Regions from separate parts of the Homo sapiens genome. Here region 2 is linked to region 1. A link means that fine-mapping ties the variant in region 1 to the plasma level of a protein whose gene starts in the linked region. Region 1 holds a variant in brackets. A gene starts in the other region. All regions are shown on their forward strands.

Region 1 (8,347 bases):
TTAGCATGCTCACAATGGGGTCACAGGAGGCATGGGAGGCCTTCCATTGAAAGTCCACCTCTTCATGAGTCAGAGTCCTACACAGAAGAAACACGAGAGTCCCACAATAAAGCACTTTATCATCAGATTGATCAAAAACCTGTACATGAGTGTGTTGCCATTTTTATCCATCCATTCAACAAATATTTACTGAGCATCTACCATGCATCAGGTACTGCAGAGATACAAGAGAATACTTATTCTTGTGTAACATTCTTTGTGGGTATCAAGAAGGCAAAATGACATGCTCCTCTGCTTACAACCCTGCAATGATGCACCACTTTTCTGCAAACAAAAGCCTTAACCAGGTCCTGTGAGGTGCTATGTGATAGGGACCTACTTTCCCACACCACACCCTTTACCTCTCTGACCTCACCTCCAACTTTCCTAACCCTTGCTTCCTTCACTACAGTCACTGGCCTCTTGATTAGTCTACCAATGCACTCAGCATGCTCCCTCATTTGGGCCTTTGCACCAGCTGTTCCATGACATTGAGAAATTTTCCCTGGATTTGCTCATGGCTCACTTTCTCTACTTCCTTCAAGATTTTGCTCAAATTGCACCTTCCCCACGAGGCCTGCCTACCCTGAACACCTTATTCAAATCACAACCCACTTGCCTCTAGCATTTCCTAGTCTTCTTACTCTGCTCTAATTTTCTTTCTCTTTCCACATTCCATTTTAACATGCTATGTAATTTCCTTACTTATACTTTCTTTTATTGCCCACCCCCCAGGCTGTAAGGCCATGGGGGAGGAATTTATTGTTTGTCTGTATTGCACACTACTGTCTCTCCAGCACCTACTACAGTACCTGCTGCATAAACACTGTTGAATGAGCAGAAACAGTAAAAATACCTTTAGAACACTTTCTTTATGAAAAAAAAAAAAAAAAAAAAGCCTCTCTGGACTGGATATTTGGGGATACCATTTTAGAGCACCTGATATCACAGCTATAATTCTATGGCCCAAGCAGCTACACTGGCCCCTGAGATGTGAAGGTGAAGACACCCTATCACTCAACAGTGGATAGGGTTTCCTAAGATACCTGAACACCACTCAACTGTGCTTCCCATCCCTGCTCGTCCCATTAATACCTGTCAGTGAGCTATGTGGGTGGACAAAAATTATTTATATATAAAATGTTTATTATGTAATGGTCTGCCTTTTCCACAAGCAGTCCAAAGGAGATTGGAAACAATGAGCTGGAAGAGAGACCTATTTACTCTAGTTCCTAAATCTTCTCTGATCTTCATAATCCCTGGTATCTCAAGTGATACATGTGGTCACTTAAATTTTTTATTTCCTCATCTTGTTCTAATTTCTTTCACTCCTCAAAAAAAATAAAGAAGAAGAAAGAAAAAAATCCCTGGTGCTTTACTCCTAAAGTTTATCCATAACGTATTGTTACAGTTTCCTTGATTTTATTTGTAATTCTTGTCTAATCTTGTACATTCACAGGCTAAGAAAACTCAAGACCATTTAATCATTACAGCTCTAATCAACAGAAAAGACTTCATTATTAAAATGTTCATTTCGAAATGTGTGAAAATTGTAAATGGGGATGATGTGATGTGTATATGACATGAGATTACCGGGGTACAAAATGGGGCCCAGGGAAGCACCTTTGTTTGCCTTTATACAACAGTACAAAAGTAATCACTTGGCTGAAAGCAGATGCTGTTTTCTATCCTCATCACTGGTTAAATCACTTGTACACACGCATTGTCTTAAAGCATTTCAACAAAATTCCACTGATTGGTCTGCAAAACTGAGAGATTAAGATCCACCCCGGAACAATTTATTTACCTTCTAAAGTGAAAAAAAAAATGCTGGCACCTTCAGCTGAATAGAAAAAAATCCCATGAATTCCTTTCCTCTTTTCAAAACCTGAGCCTAATTTCTCAGCACTATGGATTCAAAATAATACATGTTAATGGATTTAGCACCAAAGAATCGAAACATTATATCTGCATGAAAAAAAAACAGTAGAAGAGATAGTTTACGTTTCCATTTTAAATAGATATTTAAGCAAAATAACCTGTTTAGAATATTCTAAAACAAATATCAATTATTTATATCTATGCCTTGCAAGTTAAACAATTTTGCTTTATGTGTATATTAACTTTAAAAGGTCTTAAAAATTCCTTTGAGGTGAAAATGGCTTTTTTCCGTGGTCAATAAAATTAGAATTTTTTTTTCTGGTAAATGAATTTTCAAAAGCAAATGTCAAAACTCAACTTAGAAAAATTCCAGTAGCTCTAATTCTATTATTAAAACTAATTTAAAATAAATTTTAGGTAGCAAGTTGTATACATATTAGAATATTTCAAGGCATTAAGCATATATTTTAAGTTAACGAATATAGAAAATTATGCACAAATAAAGAAAACACACAGATTTTACTCCATTGCTTTAGAAAAGTTAAAAAAAGTTTACTAGAATTTACAAAGTAGTAACATAATAAAGTTGGACATTAAATATTTTTAGTTTAAACTCTAAGTATATGAGAAAGCACCTTACAAAATATTTATTTGTATTTGCATGAGTAGCATTTTTTATTTATAAAAATAGCAAGCACATGCTAGCCAAGGCTGCCGTCAATTTTAAGATGAGAGTCATTGAATGATCAGAAAAGTATTAATTATACCATCTTCCACACTGAACTGAGAATAATGATCAATCCTAAGCTGTTACATTGACTGCAAGAACTTATTTTTTGATATTTTTTCAAGACGAATCCACTTAATTCTGAAAAAGAAAAATGTTTTTTTCTGAGTGCCTACTGCACGCCGGGACTATGCAAGATGCTGAATATGGGTATGAAAACAAACGAGATTGCTTTTGCTTTGTGGTATTGATACTTAACTGGGCCAATTTCCTTTACATGATGAGCTTAATATGCAGCTGTAAAGCAAGTTAATCAACAAGAGTTCTCTGTTATATTCTATCCCCTACTTTTCCCGTAGAGCTGTATAATCCTGCAAATGGCCAGCAGCAGCAGCAACAGCAGCAGTTGCTATATGGGAAATTGAAGCCAGGGCAATCACAGCAGGAATTTAACTTCTGATGGAGAAAAAGGAAGGAGGAGCAGGAGGAGGAGGAGGAGGAGAGGAGGGGCAAGAGGAGAAACAAAATATTTTAGTGGTTGATTTATTCTGATGCCCATCAGAAAGCAAGTTGAATCAAACAAAGTAGCTTCCATTCTGTAACTTTTCTGTTTAAGAAGAAAGAGGAAGACCACAGTCTCTTTATCAGGACACATAAAAAGCACTATTGATTAAGGAAAATATTAAAAAGTTAGCCTTCATTAAAATTTAGAATTTCTATTTGTCAAAAAACGCCATTAAGAAAGTGAAAAAGCAAGTTACAGATGAGGAGAAGGTATTCACAAGACATATATCTAACATAGGACTTATATGCAGGATATAAAAAGAACACCTACAAATCAAAAACAAAAAGACAATCCAATATAAAAAATGAGCATATGATCTGAACAGGAACTTCCACAAAAGGCTATTCAAATGGCTAAAAAGCATACGAAAAGGTGTTCAATGTCATTATTCACCGGGAAAATGCAAATTAAACCACAACAACATACCACTGTTCATCTACTAGGATAGTTAAAGTTAAAGAACTAGTATCAAGTGTTGTTGAGGACGTAGAGTAACTTGAGTGCTCACACATTGCTGGTAGGAGTTCAAACTGGTTCAACCACATTGAAAAGCTGTTTGGACTCTTTTCTGAAGTTAGACCTATGTTTATCCTAAAACCCAGCAATTCCACTTCTAGGTATATACCCAAGAGAAATGAATGCATGTGTTCACCAAATGACATTTACAAGTATGTTCATGGTAACATAATTCATAAAAGTCAAAAAATGAAATCATCAAATGTTCAGCAACAGTAAAGAAATTGTGGCATATTCATATAATGGAATACTACACAGCAATGAAAAGAATGAACTACTGACATACACGATAACATAGACAAAACTCACAGGCCCAAAGT[C/T]GAGCAAACAATAGATGCCAGACACAAAAGAACATATACTATAGGATTCCTATTTACATGAAATCAAAAGTAAAACACAAAACAAATCTATTGGTCAGAGTAGAGGTTACCTTTGTGGGTATCAGCTGAAAGAGAGGGGGTACAATGGAGGTAGTGTAAATGCTGTATTCCTTCTTCTTCCTGGTGGTGGTTACAGGGGTGTCTACATAAACAAAAATGTATGCTCCTACCATGACTGCACCTCTGAATTGGTCACCTGATTCTCTGAAGTCAATAATCCAGATCATGACAGACCCCTGCTCAAGCCCATGAGTGGCTCCCATTTCACTTGGGGTACAAGTCAAACTCTTTTAATGGCCCACAATAACCAGATTTGGCCACTCCAACCCTTCTAATTTATTTTGCTCCTTGCTGCTGCTAAAACATTCCTTGAATATTGCTGTCCCAGGGCCTCTGCCCTGGCTGTTGCCTCTGCCTGGAATGTTCTTCCTCGAGATAGCCACCAACCTCCCTCTCTCAGCTCCTCAAGACTGTGTTTAAATGTCATCTTCTCACCAAGCTCTATCTGAGCTCATCCTGTTTAACACTGCAAAGCCCTCACTTTAGTATGTGCATGTGTACCTGTGTGTGTGTTTGATTGAAACCAATCACAATCAGGTTTGCCACACTGAAGAAATAAACTGAGCTTCAGTGTATTATCAAAAGAGAGAAAAACACACTTTAAAAAAGTTTAACAATTTTTTAACATGCAAAACTAGCTCACATTCTTTCTCCTTTAGTCTTCAGTAAATATTTAGAATATACAAAAAAAAAACACCACATTTTTTATGTGGCCTCTGGGGAAGCTGGAAAAAAACATCAGGATGTGGGAAGAATATGACAATCTGCCTAATAGCGTCAATGGTATGTGTGTGTGTGCGTGTGTGTGTGTGTGTGTTGGGTATGCAAACATACAGAATAGAAGGCAAGAATTGAAAGCAGTGATGCAATGTGTAAAAATGAGCCCATAAGGAAAGTTAGCAAGAGCTTTTCCTTCATTTTGACCCCAAATAGTATGGAAACTTTTCCTTCCGGCTGAGGAAATGAGTTTGACTAAATAAGAGTAAGGTATGAAATTGGAGGTGGGAAACAAAGGGTCAATCAGAAGTAAAATGAGAGGGTAAATTGTTTTCTTCTGTCATGGGAGAAAGTTTAGCAAAAAAAGAGAAGAGCATCTCAGCTGCGGTGTTCTTGTATTTCTGGGACTTCTCAGGGGCTTTCACAGACCTGCACAAGCAGCTACTGAATTACACTCAGGCCACAGGAGCCAGGGGCTGGTTGACCTCACTGGTCCAGGAAGGTAATATAGCAGGATAGCCCTCCTTTGTACAACTGGATTACCCACAGTCACCTGTGCCCATCCCTGCAGGGGAAAGGGAAAAAACTGATGCTTGTGTCAGGGGGGTTTTAAGAGATGAAAGTGTGGAAAGACCTTATTTTAGAATAAGCATAGTCTGTGTAAAAGCATAAACAAGAGAAGCAGAACATTGGGTTCACAAAAGTAAAAAGACCAGGTTTACTGAAATGTGTACCATTACAGAAGCCTGAGGGTAAATTAGTCAATGAAAGGGAAAGTATACACAAATTCTAAAGTGGCAGGCAAAGGTTAGGTATTTCTCTTGTAACCCACCTCAAAGTGTTGGTCAATGGGCTGGCTGTAATGGCTTGGTTATGCCATTGGTAATAACTTTGCCCTCAGTCTAATGCTATAGTGAGGAATTCCCCTACCTAGGTATTCAGGTTGAAACCTCTTGAGGGTCATTCCTATGTTGCTGTTTGGGGTGATGCACACACAAGAAGGATACACTGACTTCCCTACCCCTGGCTGAGCCCTCACATTTTCATTTTGCACTGGGTCCTGCAAATTAGATTGCTGGCCATGTACAACGGGTTGAGGTGTGCTGGGAAATCCTCTCCTAATGAAAAGGTCAGTTACTGCACCTTGTACTTCCTGTCCCAGGGAGCTATTCCACTTCCCACTACCTGTGACCATGCTGCCGCTCCCCATCATGCTGTCTTACCACCCTCCTTCCATCTGGCAGCTGAGAGCATGGGCCTTGGCTCCAGACTGGCCTGTCCCGGGGGACCTGGAGGGTAGGGAACAGCTGCTGTTGGGAGCCACGCCTGTGAAATTCTTCACAAGCCTCATGTAAGCCATAAGCAAAGCTCTGTGCCTCTAGCAGCCTTCAACTGCATTGCCAACCACCCTAAACAGCCTCATGGTTATTCATAAGCAGGACTAGAGTCCAAGGACAAAAACTCTAGGAGGATCTGACTGACTAATGGATGCGTATTTCATTTTCAAACTGCTTATTGGTATATGTTAAAGTTTGTGATTTATTGTTGTGAATAAAAGTAGATAGGAAAATGCTTTTCAAATTCAAACTAAGTAACATTAGATAAAGTGTCATGATCAGATGTTTTCCTTTGACCAAAGATTCATGTATTTTTTTAAACAATCAAACATTTCATATTGAGGACAACTTGTAATTTTTCATATATATAACTAAAACCAATTTTTCTTTCATATTTTGAGACATATGTCTTTTCACTGAAAAAAATAAATCTACATAAATACAAATAATGTGTTCCTTCTCAAAGTTAGGGGGACATAAAAACTGACAAGGAGGCAATGGAGAAGAATCATAAACTAATAAATCTCCAGTCCCATATCCTCTTCATTTTCTCATTCCTCTAAATCATGTAAAAAGAACGGTTAGGCAAGAAGAGAACAGATTTTACAAGAATAAAAGTACAAGTCAACGGAAGAGTAAACCATTTAAAAAAAAAAGAGTTTACTAGTTTGGGGAGCTACCATCCCAAATTCTTACTTACCTCTGGATGGAATATGGCTTTGTTTTTCTTTATATTGTATTTTTTTTAAGTATTGGGTATTAAATGAAAACCTGCAAGGTTATTCTCTTAATCCAATGTAAGTGACTAACTCTGCAGATGAGTTAATAAGTAAAATAAGGGCTGAAATGTTTCCAAAAGATTTGACATCCAAGTCAGGGATTTTTCACTGAGGTCCAAGTCATTCTAAAGGCTCCATGGATGGCATTTTTTATGAGTTTTTATGAGTGTCTTGAAACAATAAAAAAAAGTTATGTTTGATGTGTCCTTTAATGAGAGAAGAGTTGATAGCTTTTGCCAAATGCAAAGGGACCTGTGAAGTCACTGCCCCTACCAACCATTAGGATCTCAGAAATAGAGTTTAATTAGCACCAACAGTTCTGGCGGAATCTTCATAGTGAGTATCGGGTTGCATGGTTTGAAGGGTGCGGCAGAATCATCCCTGCAAGTATTGAATTCCTGCTGTGGTGAAGACTTGGTACTAGGCATAGCACTATCAGACTAGTATTGAGACAACCTGCCTGACTTGGGGATATTCCCACTACAACTCTCCTGGTGGCAAAGCACTATGCAACCACTGTGTTTTTCCTCCTTATGGTGCAACAGTGATTGCTGCAAGGAATTTTCCCTTGGGTTGGCGCCTCTGATCACCTCAACAATCCTGGGAGGCACACAGAAGAGGTATAATCGACTCTACTGGAAAGAGAAGAAACTGAGGTGTTAGGAGAAAGCATTCGTTTCCCCTCATGCTCCTACAACAGTCTTCAGATTAGGAAGCTTCTGCTTCTCTCTCCAAGGAGAACAGCATTAGAAAAGAACCTGGGGGTCCTTTTTCTCCTGCCCAGTCGTGCCTCCTCTTGGGAGAAGCAGTGGCATATCTATACCTGCCAGGTGGGTAGGGAGAAGCTGGCTATGTGAGTTTCTCCCTGGGGATCCTCCGAATCCAGAGAAAAAAGACCTGGATCCTATTCGGTTCCCACCCTCCTCTGTGTAAGCAGCAGGTCAAGGCCCAGAGCCAAGACCTGACAGCAGGGGCAGATCAGGAGTTCAGCTTGCTTTCTCTTTCTGCTCCCAGTGGATGCAAGGGTGAGGTTCTAAGAAAGCACGTCTGCCCTGCAGACCCAAACTCTCCCACCAGGGAGTTGTCTCAGGGTCATGCTGAAAGAAACAAAGGAAGAGAATGAATATTAGAGATCCCAGCTCTGGTAGGTTGCCTCAGTTTCTAAGTCTGCCTTATTGGTAACAGAAGTGCTATTTTCATCTCCATTTGTGTGACTTGTGCGTCACTTCTCAGGTGGTTCCAAATTCAAGAGTGAGGAACAAGGTAAGACTAATTATTCTCTCTTAAATTTCTAGCAAGGGTTTCATGGACCTAAATGGTTTAATCAAGATCACATACCTAATAAG
Region 2 (8,347 bases), not on the chromosome of region 1:
TAGCATACCTACATTAAGATACTGGCTAGCATTTAGCTTTTTTTATAAGTAAATAAATTGGCAATATCATTAACACTTCCATCAATATCATTGTTTAAAGCATAAATAATAAATGAGTCCATTCTTTATTTCCTACTAGACTGAGGGCCAGAACTTAATAATAATCCTCTAAGGCAATCTTATTTTTTGGAGCTGTTTTAGTTCTCTTGAAGACAGGCAGCGTATCTTCCCAAATGATGACATGAGCCAAAGGAATGGCTGTTTAATTAAAATTTTTAACTTCATCAATGGATTGAATGATTTTGTATAAAGAGTATTGAACTGTGAGTCTTGTGCCTTGATAAATGGTGACAACCAACACCAAGTAACGCAAAACAAAAGTAAGAATTCATTCCTCCTTCTCAACCCGCCCACCATCTCAAATGGTTGCCAGATCCTGTAAATTTTAAATTCTGAAATTTCTTGGACCTACCATTTTCTCTGCATCATTACTACTTTTAGTTCAGCCCTTGTCATTCTCCCCTAAACTACTGACATAGCTTTGTGACAGGCAATTTACCTTGTTTCCAAACCATCTTCCATAGCATTGCATAAGCAATTTTTCAAAACCCAACCAGGTTACTCTGTTCTGGAACTCACCAAAAGCCTCTCTTTCTTCTGTTAAACTCTAGTCTTCTTGGTAAAGCATAAAAGGCCACCCATAATTAGCACTTATCTTTTCCTCTTCATCCACTGAGTCTCAGTAACGTTAGTCCATCTGAACTCCGCAGAACAAACCTCAGAGTCTTGGCTCCTTGTGGTTTCTCAGCTTCTCCCAGTTTTGGCGGCCTTGTCCCTCCATGCCTGGCCACATCTCATCAGGTTGTGAGTGAGGAGCTTGATGGGCAAGTTATGGTGAGGTGATTAAGTATACCTAATTATTATTATTTTTTTTGGTGAGGTCTTCCAATAAAAAAAGCAAGAGTTTTTTTGTTGTTGTTGTTTAATTTCTCCAAAAATTACTGCTTCATGTCTGCTTTTATTACTTGGCATCTTAGAACTCTGTTTACAGGTCTTTTAGCCAAGAAACTCATGACCATATGTATGTATTCTTTTCAGAATGTCAATTTTAGGTTGGCTAGAGCTGAACAGACTCCTCCAGACAGTAGCATGCTACAAAAGTTTTAAGTAGACAAATATAGTGGTAATGCAAAGGTGATTGGAGGAAGTCGAATGTCACTGAACAAAAGCTTTAAACAACTTTATGTTCCAAAAAGAAGTGCCCTTGAATATGAAGTTTTTTTCACTGATTTATCATAGAGTTTTATTTAACAATTTTTCTTTTTTCGCTTTTATATGTAGCTTAATTTGCATTCTAGTTTATCCAATTCATGCAACTAGTGTCTGTCCCTCATTTTTGTTTTTGTAGAGTCTTTGATACAAAAGTCTTTTAGTAAATATTACATGTCTTTTGCCAAGGTGTGAGGTCTAGTGCATTTAACTGTCATGAGAATGATACGTTAGCTAAAACAAAATTTATCAAAAAGCAATTACATAAATTTAGGGAATTTTGAATGGGAATTTCAGAGCCTTTGGGATGCTTCAGTAGCAGCTGTGAATGTGCTGGCAAAGCCCAATAAGTAGAGCTGAGGACTACTCATGAAAATTCCCACCGGAGCAGCTGTACTTTCTTCTGTTTCATTTATATATTACAACATTTTACTTGAAATGTAGAATACATTTTAAAATTAGGCACACATTATAATTAGAAACTATCAAAATTGATAATTCTATTTCTACAATGTTCTGATTCAATAGCAGCTTTCATTTAAATAATCGAGAGTATTATTTTCGTAGACATTAAATTTGGGTTTATGAATTTGAGGTTCTATAATTTGCTTGGGGTAAAATTGTGTTATCTTTTTACTAAACTCATTGAAATTCAGTACTTCCTGTGCTATCTTTGTCACTAATAGAAGTTACAGATATTTTTATATAACATTTTATTAGTGGAAGTTCTTTCAAATTAGGATCTGTGATAATCACTACACTGAAACAACAATATTTTTAGACTCACTTAGATCTTGATATTTCCTTCTGCAATGAGGAAGCATATGTATTACTTTATCACAAATTTAAAACATATTTTGACAAGTATATTTTAACATACTTAATTTCCTTTATGATCTTTAAAATTTTTTTTTGCCATGAAAATATTATCCTGAGAAGGAGTCTATACACAAAGAGGACTGATGGCTCAATGAACAGGCATTCAGTGGTAACACAGCTGATATTATTTTGTGTTGGATAAACAGCTATATGACCACAGGTGCTTTCTATACCTATAAGTTATAGACCGAAGCAGCTGTACTTGTCTGGCAAAGATTAGCACCATTCACAGGGTCTTATATTCAGGTTCTGTGGATCACTGCACTCTAGAAAGTCATAACTATATCGCCTTCCTTGAACAGAAAATTATGTTATTCTCTTCCTTTGTTTCATAAGTTTATTTTCCTTGTGGTTGCTCTTCTTAAACTCAGCACTTAGATACATTACTAAGCATGTGGTTTTTGCTGCCCCAAGATCCCTTCAGCTGCTTCTTCTAATACCATAATTTTCCTTCGTGATGCACACCTTCTGCACCATCAGATTCTGTGCTTTGAAAAGGGCCAACTACACTGACAACCTGTATCTATGATACTGGACATGGGGTAAGTTCCTTTTGTAAAATTGATTGGCACTTGACACATCTAGAACTGATGTGACTTAATTCTGCAACTTTAATAGTAAAAGAATGACACTTTCTACCCTGCTTTCTAAGAGAGAAGGATGTTTGCCAAGGGCTTCACAGCCATCTTCCCACCAGAAGGAAATAGCCTTTCTGGGAATAGAACTGGTAGAGAAGAATGCAGGTAAGAGACAGGAGGAAACAAACAACTTAGACCCAGAGAAAACAGTTTAAAACACACCTGAAATTAATTCTTCCCACGGACTCTTCAACTATGGTAGTAACCAACTCTGTCCTAGTTTAAGTCCTTTTAAGTTGGCTTATATCTAAGCTTGTCTTGGTAGAAGTCATTAGGAAAGTTTAGTGACTCAATCCCTTGAAAAGAAGAAAAGATTGATTAATTTTATGATATTATAATCCTTCTATTATGTAATAATTAAGTCAGTGAATGTAATATAATCAATTTTTTTGTGATATAAGCCCCTCATATACATACCTTATATTACAGCAAGAATTAATACAATTGACACATTTTACAAAGGAGTGAATAACTTCCAATGCTAAGTCACTCATCTAGATCTATAGAGAAAAGCAGTGTTATAATTTTTGTTTGTTGGACTCTAGAGTCTGTGTTTTTTCATTATGCCTGCTGAAAACAAAATATAGTATAACTTCTCTACTGGTATAAAATAAACATGAACAATATGCAATCAAAAACTCAATGGTGTAACTGCACAAATACTTCTCTCCCATCCCTATCTCTTCTTAATTTCTTGCCAAAGCAGCATTTTATTTTTTAAGCATTCATTCTAGAAAGGCCTCCAGGTGATTTAGAAATAGAAGTCTCATGACACCCCAAGAAAGATGATGTGCTGTAGGTTTACATGAGGAAGGGCGTAGCCAAACCAAGGCATAAGATAAATAAGTCCCTTCATTGAAACTAGGAAAAAAAATAGTTGTCAAGTGATGCACACAAATGTAGATGATTATCTTTCCAGTGGAACATAGAATTTCTGCATCACTGAGAAGAGTATGTTTTTTACACTGTAGCTGTACTTGGAAGGTATCAGATACTGTAGCTGAAGTGGCATAATTTTTAAGCATACTGGGGTTTGTGGCACATGTAATACAACATTCTTTGTTTGGGAAGCAGCTTCCCAGTATGTTTGAGTTATATCAGGCTAATTCTAGTAGAACTTCGATTTTGCATACATTTTCCAGGGCTATTATGCGTTTTTAGCTTTTCTATATCCTCAAATGACATGAAATTGCCTTAATGAGGCTAATTAAACAAGTGGAGACTGAGTATGCTCAAGTGTCTTTGAAAATTTTGGGTCATATTTGGGAGGCTTTTACGTAGTGTTGTATTTTAGTTAAGGAAAATAAACCTTTTTCATGAACGTGCAGATTATGTATCATTTCTCTTAGTATTTGGCTCATGGGCTTTCTTAGAGGCATAATATCCTAATATTCAAGACCAGCACCCTCAGGAGAATAATCGAATTTGAATATAATTAGAACAGTTCACAACTTAGGAAACACTGGGGAGGAAATGATGATATAGGAAGCTGACTTGAATTGGTAATGCCTTTAGGAAGCAAACACAGAGGCTGAAGCCTTATTCTGGACAGTTACTCTTAAGAAAGTTGTCAGAAGAAACGCATCTGCCTTTTTTTCCAGGTGAACTGCCGTGAGTTGTCCAGCATGATAGTGTTTATTTTCTTGGGTAAGTGAATGGTGCTTCTGGTTTATCTGAATTATTCATAATACTAATTCTTTGTAAACTGAATACCATCACACTTAAGCTTAACAGGGGCTTATAATATGAAGTACCAAGTAAATTACAAATTTATGCTTTAACATGGTTTATTCTTCTTGCAAAAATGTACACTCACTTTTACTCACTTATTTCTAACTCTATAGATAATGCAGCATGTGAAAATTGTATTAATCTCTCAGCTTGTTTCTGTTTTATTGTATAGAATGACCCAATGACTTTGAGTTACTTATTAGGATTAATGGAATTCACACATGTGTTAGAACCTTTTAGAAATAAAAATAAAACCTTCCAGTATCTATTTACAAGTTATAAGATGAAAAATTTCAAACTGTTATCTATTTTATTTATTTTGCTTTGAAATTAAACAAAAATAAGATTAATTTAAAACATTCAATTTACCTACAGTGTTAATATTTGCTAACTAGAAGTAATTTAGTGAAGTAAAACCACTTAACACCATATCAGAATGCTTCATATTTTCATTAATTTTTATGACCTAGAACTCAAGTGTGGACTTACTTCTCTTGTATTGGATCCGATGAATGTATTATAAGATGTTGATGAAAAATAATTTATTTTTATTTAATGTAGAATCCATGAATCTATTTGCTAGATGTGTGACTGGAGAATATTTTATATCTTCTTTAGCATTTGGTAGAATCTATAAACTGAATTCAGAAAAGGAATAATTGTAACTGTAGCTAGATTGTAATTTTAAAAATATGGCATTTTATGTTTAAGCTAATATATACTTGAATAAAGGCATAATTATGGGCCAGAAAGCAAAGAAGTTTACTTTAAATTGTATCGAACATAAAAGGAGAGTCATATCAAGTCAAGGAAACAAGTTAAGAAGGAGAGAAATCCCTTATATTTTCAGTTTTTCTTTTGTTTAAGTAATATTTTTCCATTGTTCCATAATTTTGCTTTTTGTAATTATTCCTAAAATATTTTCTTATTTTTATAAAGATTGTTAATATTTCTTTAGTTCTTTTTTGTGATAAAGAGAAATATAGGAAACTTTAATTTTTATAGATCAGGCAGCAATATAATGAAGCTCACAAAATACATTACAGACTCATTATGACCTCAGTTGAAAAGGCAATGGCCTCTTATTTTCATCTTTTACTTCTAAATTAACTTGACACCAGGTTGCATGAAGGAGGGAAATAACTTCTTAACATTGTTAGAACTAAAATTATACTATTTGATATGTTGTACCAACATTTCCCATATTATATTTTTTAGAATGCTTGTTTGACATTATCTAAATAGGTCTTATAATGAGGAAAATGTCTGTTGGTAAAGAAATGTGGAAAACAATGAATTTTAAAATCTCAGAACATTTAGTAGGATAATAAGCCCCATACATCTTTAAAACACTGATATAATTTGCAGCATTATCCATCTTATTAATTTAAAAATAGAAGTTATTTTTCATTGAGTATTACAGGAAAATTCTTGAAAAATCCTAGGTTAAATACAAAACCACAAGTCATAGTTTGGAATGAATAAGACAGATTTTGGAGAGGTAATACATTCTTGATTCTTGTGGACCAAATCATTGAGGTGGTTTTCTTAGTTGAGTCAATATTTTGTTGAGTAGGAAGTGTGGAAAATCCTATAAAATAATCTATTAAGAAGCTTGTTCAACCAAAAACTGAAAATGTGAAAGGAAGTAAAACATTAAAAACTGAAAATGTGAAAGGAAGTAAAACATATTTGGGGAAGACAACATGTAGTATTTCTAAGTGATTATTACTCTGAAGTACTGATGAAGTTTTGATGATATATCTGGGATATTATCACTTATAAGATTCTTGAAGGGGCTTTTCACAAGATATAATGATTAATGGCAAATAAAATACCATTTTCTTATAAGTTGAGTTTATGACTTCAAATTTCTATTTCTGGGTCTTTGGAAAACTGGATTTGACCAAGTAAATTTGTGCTAGGATCAAAAGAGTCCTCTTTTTCTTTCTTTGGGCTAGCCAAATAAGGAGTACAAGGGCTTGGCTAGATGAGGTTGTCCATGAACACATGAGAAAACAGAAAGCTGATATGTCCATTTCCACTCCAGCCCTCAGCAAGAAAAATGTTACCAAGCTACACCCATGGGCCTAATCTCCAAATGCAGTGACCCAGCAAGTAGTACACATGGTCCAATCAGTTGTCTTGGATTCTTCTTATAAGATGAGATTTGCAAAGAGGTAAGATTTAAAAAAAAAAGAGAGATTTCAAGCCCTTACTTGAAGCCTATCACTCTACATTGTCACAGGTGATTCATAATTAACAACAGCATTTAAAAATTCAAATAATTTGGCTCTTATTTAGTTATAGCTTGACTCTCTTGATGACAGTTACTACAACTGTCTCTGTAACACAATTTCAATCCCTGTATTTTTTTCTATTAATTGATTTGGCTAGTGTCACTTCATATGTTTGCAGAATCAATTTGACTAACTTGCGTAACATATTAAATTAACATTGCTATTTTCTTGATTGTTTTTAGAAAACTTGCTGGATTTCTCCTCTAGCAAAAGTAACTTGTAAATATCTGGAAGGTATTATTTTTTAGATGTTATCAGTTATTTATATATCTTATATATAAACATCTAATAACTTGGGTATAAGCCAATATTCATTTATTGAATACCTATACTGCATCACTGTGTTTGGTGACAAAAATACAGTTATAAATTATCCTTAATGTCTGTGGGTAAAGCTGTACAATCCAGTGGTGGAGACAGGCACATGAATATATACACTACAGAACAGTAAAATCTGTAATTGCGGGATCCCCACAGTTCTAGTAAATGGATGGAAGATGTCAAATTCAATTTGAGTGTGGAAAAAGGGGAGTATAGAATTCAAGTAAAGTTTCCAGAAAATAGCTAATGATTGTGTTCAGTTTTAAACAACAAAAAGGGTTATTCCAGAAGAAAAAGAAAGAAAATACTTATCAGGGATCAGACAGTAGGTATGCAGAGGTAGAAGACAGCATGGATCATTCGGGAAACGATAAATGCTTGAGACCTTCCAGATTGCACATGGTGAGGAATATGAGAGCCCTGATATGAGAAATAGTTTAAAGGATATAAAACAGAAAAATGGCAAGACTAGAATAGTACATCAGGTAGATTAGGGGTTACAAAGAACCTATCTGAATAAGGTTCTGAATAAGATTCAAACTGGAGGCAGACTGACTAATAAGTTAAACAAATGCTCAAAGTGAAAGTCAATAAATTTAGCAAGAATGAATATGGGAGAGTGAAGTTGAGGATGGAAAATAGTCTACCACAAAACCAAGATTTCTAGTTTGAGTTCTCATGTTAATTGTGGCATTGTGAATGAAGTAGTGGTCCACAGTGGAACAATGATGATGAAGATCCTGTGAAAGTGTTTCTGAAACATTCAAGTAGAGATAACAATTACGTACCTATGACAGGAACGCTGGAAATACTGAGATTAAATTATACATTTGAGAATCATCAGACTAACATTTTAGTTCAAACCATAAGAGTACATGGAATTTTCTGCAGAGAATGTATAAAATGAAAATAGAAAAGGTCTGAGAAGAGAACCTAAGCTAAAATTATACTTTACTAGAAGAATAAAATGATCCTGGGAATAATTTTAGCTATGGTCAGAAAATACAAAGTGGATAAATATCAAGAGAACAGAAGGGAGGGCTGGCAAAGGAAGAGTTTCAAAAACAAAAAAGTCAACAAAATGGTCAATGGTGAGATAAAGTTTAAAACCATTAAGTTAGATTTTAAAGGGGTAATTAGAGACTTTTTTAAGAGCAGTTTTAATGGAATAATAGTAATAAAAATAAATTATAAGTTGAGGAATAAATA

Alleles and levels. Alleles are on the strand shown, and positions count from the first base shown. The strength of an association depends on the size of the effect and on how common the allele is.
In carriers of allele C in region 1, the plasma level of the protein whose gene starts at base 4,326 in region 2 tends to be lower than with T alone (weak association).

What was found. A credible set is the group of variants that fine-mapping cannot tell apart. PIP is the chance, under the fine-mapping model, that this variant and not a neighbour inherited with it causes the effect. Protein levels are from antibody-based Olink assays in UK Biobank. Linkage for the fine-mapping came from a reference panel and not from the study's own genotypes, which makes the PIPs less certain.
Region 2: GFRAL starts here. The variant in region 1 is the best candidate, but not a certain one, in a credible set for the plasma level of the GFRAL protein (UK Biobank, PIP 0.90).

Annotation. Positions count from the first base shown.
Region 1 is chr8:71,478,708-71,487,054 of GRCh38, forward strand. It overlaps a transcript of EYA1 not described here. Among named protein-coding and RNA genes, the nearest start is that of EYA1, 120 kb to the left of the region's middle. The variant C/T (reference allele first, on the strand shown) is at 4,049.
Region 2 is chr6:55,323,144-55,331,490 of GRCh38, forward strand. It overlaps GFRAL (GDNF family receptor alpha like), which reads left to right and starts at 4,326. Exons shown (of 9, transcript NM_207410.2): 1 at 4,326-4,433. The coding sequence starts at 4,412.